Linked DNA regions of Homo sapiens. The protein of the gene in region 1 purifies or fractionates together with the protein of each later gene. This does not show direct contact. Each region holds a gene or a part of one and is shown on either strand. Other genes may lie near its edges.

Evidence for each region.
Region 2: the proteins of NUAK2 (region 1) and NAF1 purify together in Homo sapiens (affinity purification with mass spectrometry; 2 studies listed by BioGRID and IntAct, with this or other methods). This does not show direct contact.

Annotation. Positions count from the first base shown.
Region 1 is NC_000001.11:205,311,746-205,315,245, forward strand, and holds part of NUAK2 (NUAK family SNF1-like kinase 2), read right to left. Parts: intron 81-3,500; coding exon 1-80. UniProt on the Homo sapiens protein: Stress-activated kinase involved in tolerance to glucose starvation. Induces cell-cell detachment by increasing F-actin conversion to G-actin. Expression is induced by CD95 or TNF-alpha, via NF-kappa-B.
Region 2 is NC_000004.12:163,128,891-163,132,390, forward strand, and holds part of NAF1 (H/ACA ribonucleoprotein complex non-core subunit NAF1), read right to left. Parts: intron 459-3,500; coding exon 7-458; 3' UTR 1-6. UniProt on the Homo sapiens protein: RNA-binding protein required for the maturation of box H/ACA snoRNPs complex and ribosome biogenesis.

The DNA.
Region 1 (3,500 bases):
ATGATCTCAATCTCCCTCCGTATGTGCATCAGATCTTGCTCATCTTTGATTTTGTCCTTCCGGATTGACTTGATGGCCACCTGGGAAGAGAAGGCATGAGAGTGAGGAGAAAGGTTTGGCAGAGGACACTCTGGGGGCCCTGGTCCTGGTGGTTTGCCTGTAGCTGCTATAAAGGCCACAGAGTACACCCATAGAAGCCACTCCATCCTTCACCAGTGTAGGTGGCAGAGAGGCTGGAGAGCACTTTCTCTAGAAAAAGATCTCACCTGAGCTGAGTGCACATGGTCCATGCAGCAGGAAGGAATATCGACAAGTCACCTCCTTATTCATAGTCTACAGATAGACAAGGAAGGTAAAAACCTGCATTTGCAAGGCTGATGCGTTATGAATTATAAAGCAAACGTGCCAATCTGCACCATGAGGACAAGGACCAGCCAGTTTTGCTCACCACTGAATTCTTGATGCTGAGCACAGTAGGCACAGAATAACTCCTTGTTGCATTAGTAAATGAACTGACCCTCACAACAACCTTGGGAGGTGGGCACAAAAAGCATCATCAATACCCTTTACAGGTGAAGAAACTGGGACCCAGAGAGGTTAGATGATGTGCTCAGTCATACGGTCACTAACTGGTGCAAGTGGATTCGACTACTGGCCATCTGATTCTGAGTTTGGTACTTTTTCTGCTCCAGTTCTGTAACTTGCTATAAGCAATCAGTCCCTAGCCACAAAGTGGAAACAACCCAAATGTCCATCAAGAAAAGTAGGGATAGGTCTGGGTGCGGTAGCTCAAGCCTGTAATCCAAGCACTTTGGGAAGCCAAGTCAGGAGGATCACCTTGAGGCCAGGAGTTCGCAACCAGCCTGAGCAACATGGTGAAACCCTGTCTGTACAAAAAATTCAAAATCTAGCCAGGTGTGGTGGCACATGCCTGTAGTCCCAGCTATAGGCGCGTGCTGAGGTGGGAGGATTGCTTGAGCCCAGTAGGCAGAAGTTGCAGTGAGCCATGATTGCACCACTGGACTCCAGCCTGGGCAACAGAGTGAGACCCTGTCTATAAAAAAATAAAGAAAAGAAATGTAGGAATAAATTACATGTGGTACGTCCATAGGATGGAATAGAATATTATTCAACCATAAAAAGGAATGAAATTCTGACACATGCTATAACATGGATGATCCTTGAAAACATTATGCTAAGTGAAATAAGCCAGTCACGCAAGGATCAATATTGTATGATCCCACTTAAATGAGGTACCTGGAATAGGCAAATTCATAGGGACAGAAAGTATTAACAGAACGGTGGTTACCAGGGACTGGGGGAGGGGAAATGGGGAGGTGTTGTTTAATGTGCATAGTGTTTCGGTTTTGTAAGATGAAAAGAATTCTGGAGATTGGTTTACAACAACGTTAAATTTAACGCTACTGGTACACTTAAAATGGTAACTTTTATATTATGTATGTTTTACCATGTTTTTAAAAATTGGTCCCAAAATTATGAAGAAAAAAAAAAAAAGCCCCCAAACACCAGTCTATTCAGTCCAGATGAGAAACCTTCCTCCCCTGACAACAAACAACTCAACAGTTGCTTGCTATCTCAGGGCTTGCTATCTTAGCCCGGCAAGATGAAAAACACCACATGAGGACGAAGCCCTCCAGGCAGTATGTGTGGTGGGCTCAGGAAAGGTGGAGAGAGGCAGGAAGAAATGGAAAGAGGGCTGCCGAGGTGCAGCTAGCAAAGCTCTGAGCCACCGAGGGTCTCGGTCCCTCTCTGCTCCACCCTCCTCAGCAGCAGCTCCTGGACAAAATCCCAGAAAATACCAGGGAGCAGGGCCTGAGGCGCGGAGCTGGGGAGAGACACTGCCTAGGGAGTCTGTCACTGTCCCCCTGGGCCAGTCCCCACCCCTTCTCAGAGCCTCGGGTTTTTTTTTTTTCTGTGAAACAAACAGGTTGAACTAAGAGATCTGAGGGGCTTTCCTGCTCTGAGTCTATGAAATTAGCCGTACAGATGCCACGGGGCCCTCAGAGGCTGCAGGGCTAGGTGGGAGCTGGGTGGGGGTGGGGTGTCACAGGGCCGGCCAGTTCCTGGCAAGTGCTGCCCAAGGACGCAAATGGTAAATACGAGACTTCCTCTTATGGGGGTAGGCAAGTTGTGAGAAATCTGAAGACCTAGACTGTGGTAAACAGCTCCTCGTTCAATTTCCCAGGAGGGTTTGCGTCCCCTCAAGATTCAAAGGGAGAGAGAAAAAAGGAAACCCCTGCTCGAGGGGAGGAGCCTCTAATCCACCCTTTCACAGGGCTCTGGAGGCAGACAATGGTTTCTGGCTTGCAGGGGCAGCAGGCCCTGCCGGCCTGTGTTCTCCATCGGACAAGAATGCGGAACAGCCCTAATCCCGTAAGAGGAGCTGCTCACAATGCCCTGGCCCGGTCACCCCGGCAACGGGCCAGGGATGGCGTGCCCTCCATCCCACTCCTCCCCCAGAGCTTCATCTTTGAAAGAGGGGAGGCCCTGCTCTCGGGCCCTCCCTGAGCAGGGCAGGGAGGACAATGGCAGGCGGGAGGGATGGTCACCATGGAGCCTCCTCCCCAAGATGCTGAAGAGGCCCATGCTGCAGCTGCAGGGGATGCGATGGGGCTATCCCCCTTCTGCTCCAAACCATCCATCTCTCCCTAGTGAGCTAAGCAAAAAACAAAAACAAAAATAAAAACCTGGGCTTGGAACTGGGCAGGGGGCCAGGGGTAGATGTAGAGAGGGCCTGAATCCTCCTTTAACTAGGAGGTACCTCTCTCTCCTGGATTCAACTTGGAGTATCATTCCCACACACCTCTCGCCTCCATACCCTTTTTCCTCTCCCTGAGGGGGAGATTTTATGGACAAGTTATTTTCTCTCTAAAATTCTTTGTTTAAAATAAAACAATGGATAAAGTTCTATGAGCTCTTCAGAGATAAAGGTCCATAAAGAGCAAAACGATCAATCATATATAAACATGAATCCCATATCTAGATAATCAAAACTATTTCAGAACTTAAGATGTACGCATAGGCACATCTTGGATGTACAGTTGTGTACTCGCAGATACAATAGTGAAATAAATCATCATAGGCTTAGGGGGCAGAACTCTAAAGATGACAAGGCCTAAAATAAATGAGGTTCCAAAAAAGGGAGAAAGGGGTGTTAGAGGGGCTGGAAGGAGTCTCTGCATGGGGGCGAGTGCACAAGTTGAACCCCAAGATCCATCTCTTTCAACTCCAGAAGCCCATGATTCTACATCAGAATTGTTAATCCTCATTGAACAGTTCCAGCCTCCTGCAAGTTTGTGCTCTGGCATCAGGGGGTAGGTTAGGGACCCACCAGGTATCCATATTAGGTCCCAGGAGATCACAGTACGGCTGGCACTTTCCAGGAAGCAAACAAGTTATGTCATCAGGCCTCTATCGGTCTCCAAGCAGGTGGCAGACAAAAAGAGCCATGCATCACCACCCTGGTGGGGCTAGACCAC
Region 2 (3,500 bases), on another chromosome or scaffold:
AGTCACCTAATAGTAAGGTCCAAAATGAGAATTACTATCTCCAGAAGAGGGTGGAGGAGGCAGTGGTGGAGGGGGAGGGGGTGGGGGTAGGGAGTATGGTAAGTTAAGTAATGGATGAGCAGCCATGTTTGGTGTAGCCCAACCCATGTTTACAGGTGGGGGTGGTGGTGGGGGTGGAGGGCGGAGGGGAAAATTATGCATGTCAAACACTGGAAGAGGAAAGGGGTATTGTGGCATAATGGGATTATTTTGTCTCTGAGAAGGAAATCCTGAAGTCTCCTGAGATACCATATGTTCTGAGTTATAGAAATGCTGAGGTGGAGGCCTGCCATGGCAAGATCGAGGGTATCTGGCCCTGGAAAATCCTCGTGTGAATTCTCTGTTACGATATCCTTTTGCATGCTCTGAAGCAGAGCTATGAGCATTCCAATTCTGATGTACTTCAGTAAAATCTTCACCTTTGAGTGAGGGGAGGGAAAACATAAAAAGGAAAATAAGTTTAATATATCAAAAAGCATTGTTTGAAATTTCAATTATGATTTTTATTATCCAGTATATCTTGTGGCAGTTAAAAAAGTGTAAGACATAAAATGGTAAATTTGAAATGAACTGAAAAGACAAAACTTAATGCCAAAGAAAGAGAACCCAGCAAGTCAGAAAACACTTAGATGATAACCATTCTACTCTAGCCAAACACCACAGAAGAAAATGTGGCACCATCCCTACACACTCTCAAAGGCTGAGTACAGATCCTAGACTTCTATCCTTGACAGGCAGTAATGAGGTACTCCAACCCTTCCACCACAGTAGCATCAGGAACAGGCTGAACAGGGTGCCAGTAACAAGCCTCCCTGCAAACAATGAACATCACATGGGGAACCTGAACTTCCACCTCCACTGGCGGCAACCCAGTGTTCTTCCCTCTTTTACACTGGGGCAATGTCAGAGAAGATGGAGTAGAGTTAGGATTTTTGTCCCCAACCAGTGATAACAAGGCCATCCTCCACTGGTGTCAGTGCATACCATATGGGGAGGAGTGACAAAGTACTCCTGTCCCTACCAGGCATAAGACCTCGTGGGATGTCAGAACTTCTACCCTCATCCAGCAGTAACAAGGCACCCCTTGGCCAAAGGTGTCAACAGAGGCTAAGAGGAATACCTAGACTTCAATCTACCCTGTTCCTTTCGCTGCCAGAGTAGCATTTTTAAAAAGACAAAGAAACAATCACAACAAACCCAGCTAAATCAGAAGATTTACATAAGATCCATGGTCTTGTAATATAATACTCAATATACCCAGGTTGCAATAAAAGAAAATTGCTCATCACAAAAAGAACCAGGAAGACTTCAAATTCAATGAAAAAAATAAATCAAGCAAGGGTGTCACAAAGATGTTAGAATTATGAAAGGTATTAAAGCAGTCATAAAAATGCTTCAACAAGATATTATGAACATTCTAAAAAATTAAAATTACAAAGTTTTAGGAAAAAAAGAAGATATAAAATAAAGAACAAATTGCAATTTTAGAACTGAACATTACAATAACCAAAATTAAAAACTCAATGGAACAATATTGAAGGAGAAGAACAAAGCTGGAGGACGGAAACTACCCAACTTCAAGACGTATTATAAAGTTTAAGTAATCACAGCAGTGTGGTACTGGTGAAAGGACACACAAATAAATCAATGGGACAAAATAGAAGGTACAAAAATAGACCCACATAAACATACAAAAATAGACCCACATAAACATAATAAACGGATATTTAACGAAGGAGCAAAAGCAATACAACAGAGCATAAGTAGTGTTTTCAACAAATGGGGCTGGAACACCTGGACATCCACATGCAAAAAGAATAAATCTAGACAATAACCTTACACCGTTCACAAGAATTAATTCAAAATGGACCACAGACCTCAATGTAAAATGCAGAATTACAAAATTCCTAAAAGATAACATAGAAGAAAATTTAGACAACCTTGGGTTGATAATGACTCTTTTTTTAGAGACGGAGTCTCGCTCTGTAGCCCTGGCTGGAGTGCAGTGGCACGATCTCAGCTCACTGCAACCTCCGCTGCCCGGGTCCCAGCTGACGCAATTCTCCTGCCTCAGCCTCCCAAGTAGGAATGCGCCACCATGCCCAGCTAATTTTTGTATTTTTAGTAGAGATGGGGTTTCACCATGTTGACCAGGCTGGTCTTGAACTCCTGACTTCCTGATCTGCCTGCCTCGGCCTCCCAAAGTGCTGGGATTACAGGCATTGGGCCACTGCGCTCGGCCAATAATGACTTTTTAGATAATGACTTCTTAGATAGGACATCAAAGGCATGACCCATGAAAGAAATAATCAATATGCTGAATTTCATTAAACTTAACAATTTCTGCTCCACGAAAGATACTATCAGGAGAATGAAAGAAAAAAGCTCAGAAGTTCAAGGTTACAGTGAGCTATGATTGTACCACTGCATTCTAGCCTGGGCAACAGAGCAAGAATATCTCAAAAAACAGACAAAAACAAAAACAAAAACAAAAAAACCTCAGCAAGACATTTGTTGATGTAGAGAAGATTCTAAAATTTATACTGAAAGGTAAAGGACCTAGAATACCGATTATAATTTTGAAAAAGAGAAATAAAGTAGGAGTTATCACTCCACGCAATTTTAAGACTAACCTCACATTCTATACAAAATTTAACTCAAAATGAATCACAAGTGTACAATTTAAAACAGAAGACTACAAAACTTTTAGGGAAAAAATAGAAGAAAATCATTAGGATCTAAAGCTAAGCAGGAAGTTCTCAGATTCCATAAACAAAATTGATAAATTAGTTTTCCTCAAAACTAAAAACTTTAGTATTGCAAAAGGCCATCTTAAAAGAAGGAAAAGACTACAGACTAGAACAAATCATGAACGAACCAAATATTTGACAGAAAGCTAGTATCTAAAATATACATTTTTAAATTCTCGTAACTCGACAGTAAAAATCCAGCAATACAATTTAAAAGTTGGCAAAAGATAATGAACTGACATATCACTGAAGATACCGATAGTAAATGAACACATGGAAAGATGTTCAATGCCATTAGCCATTAGGAAAATGCAAATTAAAACCACAATTATATTAGCACTACAAACCTAGCAGAATGGCCAAAATTAAAAACAGTGATAACACCAAATGCTGGAGAAAATGCAAAGAAATTGTCACTCATACATCGCTGATAAAAATGTAAAATGGTATAGCCATGCTGAAGAACAGTATGGTAGTTTCTTAGGAAACTAAACATGTAATGCAACTATTATACAACCAAGCAATTATACTCTTGGGCATTTATTCCAGAAAAATGAAAACCTCTTTTCACAAAAAACCTGTATATAAATATTTATAGCTGCTTTATTCCTAATAACCCCAAAATGGAAACAACCTAGATGTCCTTCAATGGATGAATGGTTAGGTAATCTGGTAAATTCATGCCATGAAATGTTACTCTGTAATGAAGAG